2 separate regions of the Homo sapiens genome follow, and region 1 is linked to region 2. Evidence: fine-mapped expression QTL. A gene starts in region 2. The other region holds a variant in brackets. All regions are shown on one strand. Distances are between the middles of the regions. Region 1 overlaps MRM3 (mitochondrial rRNA methyltransferase 3). Region 2 holds the start of GEMIN4 (gem nuclear organelle associated protein 4).

What was found. PIP is the estimated chance that this variant, and not a neighbour inherited with it, causes the effect.
Region 1: its variant is fine-mapped to the expression of GEMIN4 in subcutaneous fat (GTEx, PIP above 0.99).

What each region holds. Positions count from the first base shown.
Region 1 is chr17:788,568-796,893 of GRCh38, reverse strand. MRM3 (mitochondrial rRNA methyltransferase 3) reads right to left here. Exons shown (of 4, transcript NM_018146.4): 4 at 4,385-5,360. The coding sequence ends at 4,825. Among named protein-coding and RNA genes, the nearest start is that of MRM3, 10 kb to the right of the region's middle. RefSeq lists an enhancer at 5,731-6,025. The variant G/A (reference allele first, on the strand shown) is at 4,118.
Region 2 is chr17:748,983-757,266 of GRCh38, reverse strand. GEMIN4 (gem nuclear organelle associated protein 4) reads left to right here and starts at 5,003. Exons shown (of 2, transcript NM_015721.3): 1 at 5,003-5,134. The coding sequence starts at 5,125. It also overlaps the pseudogene DBIL5P. RefSeq lists silencers at 4,624-4,883, 5,064-5,483 and an enhancer at 5,664-5,723.

The DNA.
Region 1 (8,326 bases), 40 kb before region 2:
CAGAGACGGCCTCCAGTCCGGATTCCGGGTGCTTATGCCTCACTCACATGAGGAAGTCACCCACAGGTGCTAGAATGACGACACAGTAGGAGACGTGATCTCAGGGCCAAAAAATCCATCTCTCGAATGTCAGAGGACATGGAGGTCCTACTTGGCAGGCTTGCAGTGAGTACGCCCCGCCCTCGGCATCTCAGAGGAGCAGGGAAGGGAGGCTGAGGCCGGAGCTTGCTGCAGCCGTCGGCTCCTCCCTCCCCAGCCTTGTTCCCTGTTCCCTTCCTGCATTTCTTTTTTTTTTTTTTAAAGACAAGAGTTTCACTTTTGTCACCCAGGCTGGAGTGCAGTGGCACGATCTGACTCACTGCAACCTCCGCCTCCCACATTCAAGCAAGTCTCCTGTCTCAGCCTCCCAAGTAGCTGGGACTACAGGCACACGCCACCACGCCGGGCTAATGTTTGTATTTTTAGTAGAGACAGGGTGTCGCCATGTTTGCCAGGCTGATCTCAAACTCCTGACCTCGTGATCCGCCCGCCTTGGCCTCCCAAAGTGCTGGGATTACAGGCGTGAGCCACCGCACGCGGCCCCCTTCGTGCCTTTTGAGGAAGCAGCAGCCTTGGTCATGGCCCATAAGAACTCAGACTTCAACTGAAAAAAGTGGCTCTTCCCTACACAACAGTCCAGGAAGCTGGATATTGGGAGTGTGGTGAGACGAGAACTGACCCATCCATAAGCTATTCTGGATTCTCTGTCACTCTCAGCCGTGGAGCATCAAGCAGGCTTCCTGAAGCTTCGGGAGGACCTGGCTTCAGCTGCTGTCTCAGCTGCTCGAATGTAACATGGTTCCGTAGTTGAGACTTCAGTCATCCTGAGCAATAAACCAGCTCATCCACTAACTTGGCTCCTAGCTTATTACATGTGTGCACTCCCTGCACTGATGAAAACAGGAAACATGGCGGGCGCAGGGGCTCACGCCTGGCATCCCAGCACTTTCGAGGCTGAAGCAGGAGGATAGCTTGAGGCCGGGAGTTCAAGACTAGCCTAGGCAACGTGGCAAAACCCCATCTAAAAAAAAAAAAAGAAAACAGAGGAAACACAATCATGGAATTTTTAAGGTGGCAACATGTTTTCTTAAAAACAGGTGAGCCTGTCAGCTCTGCTCCTGAGGGAGAGGTAGCTTGGTCAAGAGGGCAGCCCCAGGCCCTGCAGTACAGCTGGTGATTTTCAGCCCAGAGCCCTGGAACCTTGGATGGGGAGTGTGTGTGAGGGCTGTGCGTGGTAGAATGGCAAAAGTGGGGCTAAGTGTGGCCCAGCGTGGCTGGTGCGGACATCTGGGGTTGCTGTCAACCCCGGGGCAAGCAGCGGAAGGTCCCAGGTGAACGGCAGGTCCCCAGAGGTCTGTTTCTCCTCTGGACCTTAATGACCAGGCTCCCAGCCAGGAGCCAGCGGCTGGGGCGAGGGGAGAGTGATTTCAACGCTCTCTGCCCCGAAGCAGGAACCGAAGGGCCAGCCGGTGGGCACCCAGCGTGAGCTCCAGGCACATCTGGACACCTATGCTTTGCCCAGAGTTGCTTTTCTCAGAGGCTGCAGTCACAGGGAAAAGTTGTGACGGTCTTTCCTGCTATTTCCCGTTCGTCCTCTTTCGCCTCCGTTTTTGTTCCCATGTCTTCCTGTACTCCGGGTTCTTTCTTCTGAGGTGGTCTGGGACAATCTGGATGGGTCTCCGGCTTTAACACCCCGGAGCACAGACAGCTTGCAAAATGCTCTCTGGTGGAGGGAGACTTCACTCCATCCTCTTTTCCTCCCTTTTCAACGATTTAAATCCAGGAAAAAATCGCAGCCCCGCCCTTCAGCACTGGGGTGGTTTTGGAGGTGTCGCCTGCCACCTCCTGGCAGACGCCACTGTGACAGCTACGCCACCACACAAAGGCGCGGGAGCGTGGCCAACATCCTGACAATGTTTGTCTCTCGGCCAAGCAGTGTTTTCCTTGTCAAATGTGGCTCGTTTTTTATTCCTGTTTACTGGGGAAATGGTGACAGAACAAATGTCAGACTCAAAACTGAGAATTCAAGGTAGTGATTTTCCAGAATCACTCAGCAAATAACAACCATCTGTTCCCCTGTATTCACTGAAGAAAGGACAATTTGCCTCCCTCCTGCACCCTCCCTCGTCCCTACTAAATTATACCCATGAATATATAAAGTGAACTGAAGGCACCGTGGCATATAAGCCACGGACTCTAAAGCAAAGGGATGTAAATTTCTTTTCCCTCTCACACCCAGGATAAAATGGGCTTAGAATTACTTGTCAGTGTTGGCCGGGCACTGTGGCTCACGCCTGTAATCCCAGCACTTTGGGAGGCCGAGGCGGGTGGATCACGAGGTCAGGAGATCAAGACCATCCTGGCTAACATGGTGAAACCCCGTCTCTACTAAAAATACAAAAAATTAGCCGGGCGCAGTGGCTCACGCCTGTAATCCCAGCACTTTGGGAGGCCAAGGCGGCGGATCACAAGGTCAGGAGATCGAGACCGTCCTGGCTAACACGGTGAAATCCTTTCTTCACTAAAAAAACACACAAAATTAGCCAGGCTTGGTGGCAGGTGCTACTCGGGAGGCTGAGGCAGGAGAATGGCGGGAACCCGGGAGGCAGAGCTTGCAGTGAGCCGAGATCGCGCCACTGCACTCCAGCCTGGGCGACAGAGTGAGATTCCGTCTCAAAAAAAAAAAAAAAAATTACTTTCCAGTGTTTACATTGCTTTTTCTAAACAAGGACAAGGTAATACATGGTTTATTCTTTCACTGTTATTTTGTAACGAGTCAGTGGGAGTATAACCCGGGGAACAAATCCCACGAGATTGGTTTTAGGCTGGAAAGATGTGAGCTTCCTTTTCGTGACTCCTGCTGCTTGAGCACTGTCCTGAGGTGTCTGGGGAGACTGGAGTGGGATGGATTTGCATTCTCCAGGCCGCCTTTCCGCCTGTCCTCTCTGCACCAGCCTTTGGGAGCAGTGTTGGGGGGACACTTGCATTGCCCATTCATGTGGAGCTCTGGGCAGGCCCAGACCACAGTGGGGCTCCAGAGCAGATGTTCAAATATTCAGATGTCAGCCTGGGAGGACACTGTCCCTGCAAACACCCCTCCCCCAGGGGAGAGCAATCCCAACCTGCCCCTTGGCACGTGAATCATGCTTGGTCATTTGGTTTTACTAGGAAGAGGGAGTTTGACTAGGAAGTTGGGGGAGTAGAAGAGAAAGAAGGTTTCTCCTGGGCACACCAGCAACACACTTGACCTCCCTGGAGTGAGCAGTGTCCAAACCATTACGGGAGCCGCTGGGCAGAGGGGTGTGGGGAAACGCTTCCTGTGTTGTCTTCAACTCCAACTCTGTGTGGCTGCAAAAGCAGTGCTTTTTTTTTTTTTTTTGAGACGGAGTCTCGCTCTGTCGCCCAGGCTGGCGTGCAGTGGCGCGATCTCGGCTCACTGCAAGCTCCGCCTCCCGGGTTCACGCCATTCTCCTGCCTCAGCCTCCCGAGTAGCACCTGCCACCACGCCTGGCTAATTTTGTGTATTTTTTTAGTGAAGACAGGATTTCACCGTGTTAGCCAGGACGGTCTCGATCTCCTGACCTTGTGATCCGCCGCCTTGGCCTCCCAAAGTGCTGGGATTACAGGCGTGAGCCACTGCGCCCGGCCTCCCGAGGTGCTGGGATTACAGGCGTGAGCCACTGCGCCCGGCCTCCCGAGGTGCTGGGATTACAGGCGTGAGCCACCGCACCTGGCCAGCAGTGCTTAAGAGTCCCATATTCCACCCACCCACCCCATCCCCACAGTTCCTTATAGATACATTGATGACCATCAGCACTTGCCCTGACACCCTGGCTACATCCTGGTTTGGCCGCTAGTAGGTAAAGATCCAGCTTGCCCTGGGCCCTGGAGGGGCTGAGAGAACAGAAGGGTCCTGCCGCTGTATTGTGGGCGTTCATTCTCAGAACCTTGGCCTCTAAACATTGGGGGATGAGACGTAAGTAGGACTAACACAGGGAACCAGGAAACAGTGACACTTTCCTGACACATGCAGGGTGAGGCTGCCGATTTTGAAATTCAGTTTTCCGCATAGACTTCC[G/A]TCTCTGCAAAGTCCTCAAAAAGGTATCTGCAGAGGTGCCAAGAAGGTCTGACATGGCCTGTTGAATTAAGCCGTTTCTATGGATACATAAACAGTGGCTCAGTGAAGCCCTGAACAATCTCAAAGACAGACCATCTGAGCCCAGAGCAGAGCTGCTGGATGCCATGAGCGTAGCCCTCAGCTTCCTGGTGTTCCCTTAGCCACGTCCTCGTTACCAGGCCAAACGTGACAGGTACTGTGACACACCAACGACACAAAACAACTTACTAACGTAATCTGCTGCTCATAGTTTATTTTCCACCAACCAGTGATCAGCTGTGAGTGATGTGGCTGTGACCTATAGCTGGTGCTTGGCGATTACAAACACCCACCAGCTGGTGGAGCAGGCGCCTCCCTGCCAGGATGATGCTTCAGGAACTTTCTGGGCACAAAGTGCTTCTTGGTGGACAATTTTTAAAAACACACAGAGCCACGTGGGTCACCTATTGTCACCAAGAGAAAAAAGAACCTCAAAATCAGTGACGCGACAGGAAGAATTCGGACCTGTTCTTTCTGAGGAAGTTCTTATTTTTCCTGTAACTGTATGACGGCATCACACCTTCCTCCTGAACGTGGGGGCCATAGTCACTGACTCCGCCAGCCTCCCACCAGTGTGCTGGTGTAGGAGGAGCTGCAGACGTCCTCAAGCAGAAGTCACTTCTGCGTCCTCAGTGGTAACTCCTGTCCCTGCTCAAGTCCTCCGCCCTCCCCCGCAGCTGTCTTTTCCCTTCGAAAAGCAGGATGCTTGCCGCCATGGCCGAGTTGAGGCTGTCCACACCAGGCACAACGGGGATCAGCAGCCTCTTGCCACCAGTGCTCTCGGCCAGCTGCAGGGACTCCAGGCTCACGCCGTAGGTCTCCCCGCCAATCACCACAGCTGCCGGCGCCTCTGTCCAGTCCGAGTCGTAACTCTGAACCTCAACATGAGGCAGCCAATCTTGACTGGCTCCGGTTTCTACATCTTCCTCTTCCTCATACTTGTGAAACTTCATCACTCGTTGATCACACACCCAGCCATGGTCACTAGCTTTATTAGACATCTCAGCCTGGGCATAAAGGCCACAGTTGTCAGCCACATAGACCCGAGTGTCAGGGGGCAGGTAATTGGGCACGGTTTCCCATTCCAGATTATTGATAATGGGCATCCGGAAATGTGCGCCCATACCCGCCCGGAGCACTTTGGGCTCCCAGGCATCCACACAGCCTGGAAAATAAAAAGGAAACAATCAAGATGTTACAAATCTTCCCAGACCAGGGGACTGTGGAGTAAGTCTGATCAATTTTGGATCAGGAGATAAACCAGTTCTTCTATGATAGCTTTCTTGAGGGATGGGACCTTCTGCCTCTCTCTGACAGCATCCAGCACAGCGACTATAGGAGTCACTCCTGCTAGTGCTGAAGATATTTTATGCATCCCTTCAACATCTCCCATTCACACGTGCCAGACACTGCGCAGAAGATGCAAAGATAATGAAAGTCCCCAACCCCAAGGAACGCACAGTGTAGTGGGGTGGTATTAAACAGATGGCTACAGTATCAGTAACTGATGTAAAAGAAGCACCCACACAGTCATAGAAAACCCACGGACAAAGCAGGGCGATGAGGAAAACCATCTAAAAGACCACCACACTGAGATAAAGGCCCAGGCAGAGGACAGAGCTAGGAGAGGAAGCGGGAGAGTGGCGCAGCCTAAGGACTGCAAGCATGGTGAGCCGGCCAATCAGCGGTGGCGCTGTGGCGGCACAGGAGGTGAGCCAGCCAATCAGCCGGTGGGGGTGTGGTGGCACAGTTGAGGTGGCCAATCAGCGGGTGGGGGGGGGGTGTGGTGGCACAGGAGGTGAGCTGGCCAATCAGCGGGTGGGGGTGTGGTGGCACAGGTGAGCCTGCCAATCACTGGTGGTGCTGTGGCGGCACAGGGGGTGAGCCGGCCAATCAGCGGTGGCGCTGTGGCGGCACAGGAGGTGAGCCAGCCAATCAGCCGGTGGGGGTGTGGTGGCACAGTTGAGGTGGCCAATCAGCGGGTGGGGGGGTGTGGTGGCACAGGAGGTGAGCTGGCCAATCAGCGGGTGGGGGTGTGGTGGCACAGGTGAGCCTGCCAATCACTGGTGGTGCTGTGGCGGCACAGGGGGTGAGCCGGCCAATCAGCGGTGGCGCTGTGGCGGCACAGGAGGTGAGCCAGCCAATCAGCGGGTGGGGGTGTGGTGGCACAGGCAGTGAGCCGGTCAATCAGCGCTGGGGCTGTAGTGGCACAGGAGGTGGGAGGTGGGCAGGCCAACACGGAGGAGGCCTCCTATGGGAAGCTGAGGAGTTTGGCATTTTATCAGAAGACAGTATCATGCCATTGAGGGATCTTAAGCAAAGCAGTGACAGAATCAGATCTATAGTTTCATCAAGACCCATTGGGCTTCAACGTTCAGTCTGCACCGGAGCAGGGAACACTCTAGAGATGAGGCAATGAGGCAAGAGGCAACCCCGGCAGCAGCCTGCGACGCCTGGCCTTTCCCAGGGGCGGCTCCTCACCACGGGCGGGCTGGGAGAGTGGCCGAGGGTGGGGCCTCGCAGTGACTGCATGGCCTCCCACCCTCCCCCGCACAGCTTGTTAGCGCAAGTCTTCTCCTGACGAGTTATTTTAGAAGTTCATTTGTCAAACCTCGGGATAGACGAACCAGGCAAACCAGATTTTAAACGGAGAATAAGACACAGAGGATGTAACAGCGCCTGCACCCCCAGCCACGGGCTTTCCCTCTCCCTGCAGGAAACCAGAGATAGGCCCAGGCGTGTGAGAGGAGCGGCCGAGGCTGACCCCTCTGCCTGGAGGGGAGAAGGGAAAGGGGAAAGGCGAGACTCCTCCCGTCATCCTCATGTCCTGGATACTGGGCACCACACCAAGTATTTCCTACCTTCTTTCCCTATTTCTTACACCCCAGCCATCAGTATCAATGTGAAAACCACAATGCTTGGATTATTTAGATTTATTTCCAAATCCCACAACAGCTATCAGAGCACTAAATAATGGGGCGAGTAAGCGGGTACTGATCACAGAACCCCAGCACGTAGCTCTCACACTGGCACAGAAACGTATTCTAGCAAGGCGTGACTGAGAAAGAGCTGCGAGCAGCAATTTAGGCAAGTCTCAACAACGGGTGCCACTATTAGTTTACTTTTAATGGTGGCTGGGGTGTTTCTGATGAATGGTACTCTCTGTCCCCTCCACCTCCCAAGGTGTAAGAGACATTTTAGGCGTGCTCCAACTGTGAGGAAAGTCTGTTTAGAGCCAAGCCTATTAATCCCTATTTCTGATGAGAAGAGACAGAAATGTAATGAGGCGAATTTGTGTGCGGGGCATGTGACCCACGCTGAGGCTAAGGGAATCTAAGGGAAACGGATCACAATGACATTAGGATTCAGAGCTGCTGACGTCATTCCTTTCATAGGATTCAGAAGTCAAGACTCAGGAGTGGCTCATATACTCAGCAATTTGGGAACTCAATATCATTACATAAAGAACCAGAAACCAAGTGTTAAAATTGGCATCTATTTCTTTTCCATAATCGATGTGAAGTTCTCTAACAGCCTAGCAGGTTTCATGATAATTTTAAAAGATAATAAACATGGCTGGGTATGGCGGCTAATGCCTATAATCTCAGCACTTTGACAGGCCGAGGCAGGAGGATCCCTTGAGCTTAGGAGTTCCAGATTAGCCTGGGCAACACAGCAAGACCCCGTCTCTACAAAAAACATAATTTTTAAAAAAGAGAATCAACATTGACTGAATTACTCGTGAGGCAGGTAAGGTATGAAGTAACTTCTGTGCATCATCTCACTTAATCCTCACAGTGACCAGGGAGATTCTGTTATTCCTCCCAGTTCACCAACGAGGAAGCTGACACTTCAGGGACTACTGCTCAGGGACCACAGCTAGTGAAGGCAGACCCATCCAAAGCCGTGTCTGCCTGCCCAGAGCCCTAGCTCACCTAACAATGGTCGACTTGGCTGGGCGTGGTTATTCATGCCTGTCATTCCAGCTACTGCTCAGGGACCACAGCTAGTGAAGGCAGACCCAAGATCCAATGCATGTCTGCCTGCCCAGAGCCATAGCTCACCTAACAGTGATTGACTTGGCTGGGCATAGTTGTTCATGCCTATAATTCCAGCACTTTGGGAGACTGA
Region 2 (8,284 bases):
CAAGAGATCCTCCCACCTCAGCCTCCCGAATGGCTGGGCCCACAGCCACGTGCCACCACACCCAGCCAACGTTTTGATCTTTTGTAGCGACCGTCTCACTGCGTTGTTCAGGCTGCAAGCTGTTGTTTCAAACAGATGAAGTTGGAAAGTTCTTCAGCTTCTCCAGAGTTGTTTTTTTGAATCAAGGGGTTGTGGAGCCTACATGTAAATACAAGTGTGCCTTGAGTTAAATCTCCGGGAAGACTTAGAACGGCCGTGTTGCCAGAGCTCTCCTAGTTAGCCTGCAGGACTGTCTGAAGTCCGTGTCCGTCTGACATGTTACCGGAATTAACAAACCTAGGGACGGTGAGTGCTCCTTCATGTGGCTTTCTGGCTCTCTCACCTGCCACTCAGTGCCGCTGTGACTTAGCAGCCAGAGTTTTCAGGAGACCTCCAACGTGTCCGTTGAAATTCAGGGTAAGAGTTGAGAAGTTTCCCTGTTTGTTCTAAGAGTTCTTACCCCAACCTCAGGGGAAATCAATAGTAAATTTACTCTGACTTCAATGATAATAAAGAAGTGCCCTTGCCTCATCCTCTTTATATAAAGCAATAGAGCCACATGGTTCAAAAATGAAAACAATATGAAAAGGTATTGTAAACCGGGTAAGTGTCTGAGACAAGTCTCGCCCATTTAGAGGTTTATTTTGCCAAGGCTGAGGATGTGCCTGAGACACAACCACAGATCTGTGGCCCCCGCACACTTTCCAGAGAGGATTTTTAGGGCCTCAGTATGTGGGATATGACGACGTTTCTCTTCAAATAATCTGATCAATCTTTTATTCTTTAATTCATAGCGCCCCGCCCCCTTTTTCTCCTTTTCCCTTTTTGCCTTTGTGAGATGCCCAGGCACGCCACAGCACCAGGCGTTATCAGTACCAGCTCACATTCCTTTCCTTATTTGGAAAGAGGACTAACTTTCTAGCTCATTACAGACACCCCTTCCCCTTCCTCTCCGCTTTCTTTTACGGGCCCACCCTATCTAAAAAAATCAAATGTTTAGCCAAGCGCGATTAGTTTAGATTGTACGACCTGACCCCGGCCAATGGGGAAAGGGTAGAGGGGCAGGACTTGTGTCAGGAACAAAGGCTCTCGTGCCCCTTTGTTCAGGTGTGCTCTCATGACAACTGGCCAAGGAGGCACCCCTCTGCACAGAAGTAAAATTGCTTTGCTAAGAATCCTTTGTTCGAGTGTTCTATTTCCTTAGGATTTTGAGCATTATTCCTAACAAGTATTTAAAAGGGAAAGAGCAGGAAGGGAGGGAAGAGGGAAAGGAAAAATACAGGAGGGTAGGTAGGGAGATAAGTGGTTACATTCTTATTAGGCTTTGATCAGCGCTCACCAAATCTACATGTCACAGTGAAAGGAGGGGGTAGAGGAACAGTCAGTTTTGCATTCAGCTCAGTAAATCTACATTTAGCACTCACCAAATCTACATGTTACAGTGAAAGGAGCAGGCAGAGGAACAGTCAGTTTTGCATTCAGCTCAGTAAATCTACATTTAGTGCTCACCAAATCTACATGTTACAGTGAAAGGAGCGGGCAGAGGAACAGTTACGCATTCAGCTCAGTAAGTCTACATTTAGCACTCACCAAATCTACATGTTACAGTGAAAGGAGCAGGCAGAGGAACAGTCAGTTTTGCATTCAGCTCAGTAAATCTACATTTAGCGCTCACCAACTCTACATGTTACAGTGAAAGGAGCGGGCAGAGGAACACTCAGTTATGCATTCAGCTCAGTAAATCTACATTTAGTGCTCACCAAATCTACATGTTACAGTGAAAGGAGCGGGCAGACGAACAGTCAGTTATGCATTCAGCTCAGTAAATCTACATTTAGCGCTCACCAAATCTACATGTTACAGTGAAAGGAGCGGGCAGAGGAACAGTTATGCATTCAGCTCAGTAAATCTACATTTACTGCTCACCAAATCTATATGTTACAGTGAAAGCAGCAGGCAGAGGAACAGTTATGCATTCAGCTCAGTACATCTATGTTTTGTCTCGGCTGGTGAGGGATGGTTTCTGGTGTTGTCTTTGTCCCTTACCTATGAAGATAAGCTGTTAATTTATATTGTCAGGTGAGGGAGACCACCTGGGGAGATATGTGGCCTTCTGTCTTGTAGCTTATCTGTTTAGGAACAAAAGGAAGTTTTTTGCATATTCCATGACTCAATTTCCAAGCTTAACTTTTCCTTTTCGCTTAGTGAATTTGGTCCCAAGATTTTATTTTCCTTTCACAGTATACCCCATGCCCATCAATCCCATTCCCCCTGCATCCTATAGGTAACCTCTTCTTAAGCAAATACAAATAGATAAATCCTTATTTTCTGTTTTTTTTTTTAAAACTTTATTTTACTGTTACTTTCTGCTGTCCTAATTATGGCACATTTTTACTTTCTAGGTTCTGTGATTTACAGAGTGGTCTGGCTATGTGGACAGCTTCTAAATTGTCACCACATTTTGGAGCAAGATGTATTATTTTTACAATTAATTTACATTTAACATGAATCATGATCCTAAGTGCATCAGAATGTCTTCATAACATTCGCCAAAGAAGAGAGGGCAGCACTGCTGTTCTACAGTGTGGCTCTCACCTGGTCCACAGTTACCAGAAATAGTTCTTTCGTTGCTGTGATGTCCTGGGTGGGCTTCATTCTTTAGTAATGTACTTTGTCTACAGCAACTTCCTGCAACTATGTGAACAGATCTTGAAGACACACAGTGAGGTTTGGTTTCCTTTGTCCTCTTAAGTCTTTATGGTTGTTGCTTCTATTGTTTATTGGTCCCAGTGAGAACTGCAGCTGACCTGATGTCATGATCTGTGAAGATAGTTTCTATTAAAGAAGAAGTACCAGGAAATCCCATATGCCACCGTAGACCTGCCTTTCTGGATACCATTTACTACTCCATACTCCAGCCGCCATGCACAATGGTTGTGTATGAGGCTCCTGTGATCATTAACAGGAGTAGAAGCTGGGCTCAGACACTCTGGCACTTGCATAGGTCAAGGGGTGTGTTGTGCTCTTGCAACAAATCCCACATAGACATCCATATGCATATTGTCCCACCGTCCCCTAAGCAGAAACCAGGGTTAAGTACAGAATAGTCCCGGGAACATTTTGGTTGCCCGGCCTTAGGTGAGCCTTTCTGGGGCTGGGATTTTGACACCATCTGCTCCATTGTTTCTAAACTGCTGTGTTCTGGCGCATCAATTGTTTCATCACATTATCATCACGGAAAGCTTGGTCTCCCTCAAAACATGAACCGGGTAGGCCCTGTGTTCCAGTGGGGGCTTTTGGACTTGACTTTAGTGTTTAGGAGGACAGAGTCCCTCTCCCCTCTGTGGTGCTGGGGTATTAGTAAATCAGCCTTGAAGAGATAAGGGGCTGGGGCCTCAACCTCCCAAGAGGCTGTCACTGGAGAATGGTCTCCTGCCCTCAGATCTTGGGCATTTCCACAGCACACTGTCCCCCTCGTCCTTCCAAATACCTACATACGCTCTTGTAATAGGAGAGCTGGGAACTCCACCCAAAACCATACAAAAAGTTAGTCTGTGTATTTGGACGCCTCCCCAGCACTCAGTCACCGAGTTTCTCCTTTCCAACAGCAGTCACTCTCATGCAGTTTAAGTGATTTATTGATGTCTCGGCTAAGCTTGCGACAGTTTCAGGACATTTCAGCCATCAAGGTCTAAGAAGCCCTTTCCATTCCCGAGGAGCCCTCAGCCAGCCTCCTTCTTCCTCATCTCCTCACTCTGGCCGCGTAGCCCCTCATGGCGTCCATCTTGGACGCCCCTTTGTTCGCGCTCCACGCCCCCCACTTCCTTCTTCGTCAGCTCCTCCACTTTGGCCGCGTAGCCCCTCATGGCGTCCATCTTGGACGCCCCTTTGTTCGCGCTCCACGCCCCCCACTTCCTTCTTCGTCAGCTCCTCCACTTTGGCCGCGTAGCCCCTCATGGCGTCCATCTTGGACGCCCCTTTGTTCGCGCTCCACGCCCCCCACTTCCTTCTTCGTCAGCTCCTCCACTTTGGCCGCGTAGCCCCTCATGGCGTCCATCTTGCACGCCCCTTTGTTCGCGCTCCACGCCCCCCACTTCCTTCTTCGTCAGCTCCTCCACTTTGGCCGCGTAGCCCCTCATGGCGTCCATCTTGGACGCCCCTTTTTTCGCGCTCCAAGCCTCCCACTTGGCCCTGGCTCTCACGTCTGAGGCCGGAGGGCCGGGGATGTCGCAGTCGCCCTGGGTGGCCTGTTTGTACAAGCCGTAGACCAGCAGCTTCTCCTGATCGCTCACGGGACCCTTCAGCTGCTTGAGGGCCGCGCAGCTCGAACTCCACTTGGCACATGGGGTGGTGGAGGCGGTCCCTGGTGCTAGAAGCTGGAGGTGGAGAGTTGGAGTGGCTGTTACTACTCGATCTCAGGGGGAGGAGACAGGCACGCGATGTTTGTGTTTTGTCAAGCACAGATTGCAAGCTCGGGGTCCAGCGTAAACCCCACCATGTTTGGGCTCACACGGCGCATTTTCTGGGGAGGACCAGCCGTCAAAAAGCGTCTAGGATCCGGAACGCTGCTGTCTGGAGGGGGCGGCGCGGCAGGAGCGCGTTGAGGGACTGTATGTGGCGCGAGCTGGGCGGGTGGGAGTGGAAGCCTCGCGTGGTGCGGCCGCGCTGGGTGGTGGGCGTCCCGGGGGAGGCGCTCGGTGGGGGTGAACTGTGTGCGGGGCACGCCCGGGGTTACCGGGTGAGGGTGAATGCGGGGCCGGGGAATCATGAGCCCGACCCGCTGGGACCCCGGAAGAGGGGCCGGGCAGGGGACGGTGCGGAGGGGTCTAGTGAGCGACGTCCGGGTACCTGAGGGCTGGTGGGAGGGCTCTGCCGGAAGGCGGCGCTGTGCGCTTGGCGCGCTCGTTCGTGAGGACTGCGCGTGCGCGGCGGAGGCTGTGGGCGGGGCCGGGCGGAGGTTGTGAGCAGGCCTAAGCGCGGCCGCCGTGGCTCCTGCGTCTCCCATCGTGCCGTGCGTCCCGCGCCGCGTTCGAGTTCTCGGAGGGGAGGGGGCGTTAGCCCCGCGCAGCCGCCGGCGTCGCCGCCATGGACCTAGGTGGGTGCCGCGGCTCCCCGGCCCCGGGCTGCGTCCAGCAATGCGCCACCAGAGCGGTGCTGCCCCGTCGCGTCTCCTCCTGTCGCGCACGCTCGCGCGGGCCCGGACCGAAACGTCCCCCGCGTCGGGGCGGGTCTAGGGGTCCCGGGGTGGCCTTGGCGGGGGGTGGTCCGGGTCCCGCCGCGCGTTGGGCCGCGTCTTGCCGCCTCCGGCCCCCTGCGCTTGAAAACACGGAGCAGACGTGAAGTTAGAGCCCTTGGAAGCGCCCGGGGCTCGCGCACGTGCTTTGGGAAACGGGCTCCCTCCGAGCACCCCTGGGCGCCCCGACGGCCTCATTTCCTGAACGGCAGCTGCGTTCTTGAGCAAGTGTCTTAACGCTCCAAGTGTCTTACGCTCATGACGTTTCCTCATCGACAGAGCGGGGAGAATGGAAGTGTGTCTCCCCACTGAGTTTTGGGCGACTTTGCATTGAGATCGCCGAGGTACAGTGTCCCTTGTGGGGTTGCGCGGGTCACACCCGCGGTGGGGGCGGCTGCGCTCCTGAGGTATCACTTTGTGAACCTGCGTGCGTCCGGATTCAGAATCTTACAGGCAAGGTCTGGGAGGGAGCCCATAGGAACTAGATGCTCCCTGCTAAATCTTGGCACACGCTGCTAAGACCAGGAGGCTGTTCTGGGAGAGCTGGGGGTGAGGCACCCCGAGATGTGTCAGCAGTAGTAGGCTGGGGGGAAATGGTCTGGTCCCCGCCCCCAGACAGCTTTTCAGGAGCGGAATGGCAGAGCTCTAAGGGCTTGGAGCCCCTCAGCCGTAATTGCTTCCCAGCCCCACCACATTCAGGCTGGGACACCCTCAGCAAATCGTTTCTGCGCCTCAGTGTCCTTATCTCTAGAGCAGGAATACTAGTCCTCAAAAGGTGATTGTGAATAGAAGAGATCTTACCTGTGTACCACCTAGCACAGTGTCTGGCATGGAGTAGGTGCTTAATAAACCTAAGAAGCGGGCTGTGGCAAGCACTAGTTAACCATCCATGATAGAGTACCGGAGTATTTTCCAGCTAGTAACCGCCCTGGGACTTACTACTTCAAACTGTGCGTACTTAATGCGCCTGGAAGGCAGGTGTTTAGGGCCAAACATCTGCTCAACTAAGCCAATAATGCAATAAAATTAAATTTACAGCGTCAGGAGGGACTATATTTTGGGACCCTGGGAGAGCCTCCTGAGCCAGAAAGAAGGGCGGTAACCCCCAGGGAGGTCCCCTTCGCAGCGTAACCCTCCCTGGGAGTCGGTCTCAGCCACTGTGAGATGAGATGGATTGCCTCCACAAGTGGGTTACATAGTGCTGAGCCCTTGGCCTGCTGCCGCTCCCATAAATGGTGGGAGGGGTAAGATGGTCCTTAGTCTCCTGGAGTCAGTGTTTTCTCTGCTGGTGTCTGGCCTGTGAAAATGGGGAATATGAGCTCTTGGGGGCATGACAGACTGAGGAAGGAGTAGCATCTCTCACTCCTGGGAAAGGGGAGATGACTCAGGAATGAGGAATAGGGAGCAGTGTTTGCACCCTCGTTTTAGTTTCTGGGCCAAAGGAAACATACCTGATAAAGACCTACATCCTTTGATGTTTCTGAGCTGGGGGAGGCAAAGAATAGTGACAAGATTCTGGTCTTGCCAACCATGAAAAGGTTTGGGGAAACCAACATTTACTGAGCACCTAATTAGACTCTGTAACTGGATTCTTACTGTAGCTCTATCTCATTTATCCATCATAGCGTCCCGGGGAGATGGGGTCAGGAGATAGCAGTGCCAACCCACTAGCAAGGGCTTGACTGGTATATATCACATGATCCCCAAAGGCATAACATGAAGTCTGTATTATCCCCACATATGCAGAAGGAAGGCTTGGAGAAGCAATCTGACCAAGATCACATCCCTTTTTTTTTTTCGGAGATGGAGGGGGAGTCTCACTGTGTTACCCCAGCTAGTCTTGAACTCCTGGCCTCAGGGATCCACCTGCCTCAGCCCCCCAAGTAGCTGGGATTACAAGTGCTAGCCACTGAACCTGGCCAGAATCACATCATTTTTAAATGGCTGAACTAGGATTTAAACCCATGTCTGATTAAACATCCCAAGATGTTTTCCATGGTAAGTCTGTGTCAATCGTTAGTTCCCTGAAGGAAGGCTTAATCTAGCACAGTATTTTCTGTATCTACTCCCTGGTTTCTCCCACAGAGCTAGGGCCATGAGTACCTTGTTTTTGACTGGAAGGAGCTGTGGGGTGGACCGTTTCCCTGAAAGCTAGAAGAATGTTTGAAGCCTGTTCCCAAGGCAAGTTTATAAAGAGTGAAGGCAGGGCTTGTCTGATTCCTTCTGTGCCCATTGCTCTGTGGCTATGTGATTGCTCTGTGCCCATTACCCTGTGGCTGTGTGACTGCTGCTGTGCCCGTTACCCTGTGGCTGCGTGATTGCTGCTGTGCCCATTACCCTGTGGCTGTGTGATTGCTCTGTGCCCATTATCCTGTGGCCGTGTGATCGCTCTGTGCCCATTACCCTGTAGCCGTGTGATTGCTGCTGTGCCCATTACCTTGTGGCTGTGTGATTGCTGCTGTGCCCATTATCCTGTGGCTGTGTGATTGCTCTGTGCCCATTATCCTGTGGCTGTGTGATTGCTCTGTGCCCATTATCCTGTAGCCGTGTGATTGCTTCTGTGCCCATTACCCTGTGGCTGTGTGATTGCTGCTGTGCCCATTATCCTGTGGCCGTGTGATTGCTGCTGTGCCCATTACCCTGTGGCCGTGTGATTGCTCTGTGCCCATTACCCTGTGGCCGTGTGACTGCTGCTGTGCCCATTACCCTGTGGCCGTGTGATTGCTGCTGTGCCCATTACCCTGTGGCCGTGTGATTGCTCTGTGCCCATTATCCTGTGGCCGTGTGATTGCTCTGTGCCCATTACCCTGTGGCCGTGTGATTGCTCTGTGCCCATTACCCTGTGGCCGTGTGATTGCTCTGTGCCCATTATCCTGTGGCCGTGTGATTGCTCTGTGCCCATTATCCTGTGGCCGTGTGATTGCTCTGTGCCCATTATCCTGTGGCCGTGTGATTGCTCTGTGCCCATTACCCTGTGGCCGTGTGATTGCTGCTGTGCCCATTACCCTGTGG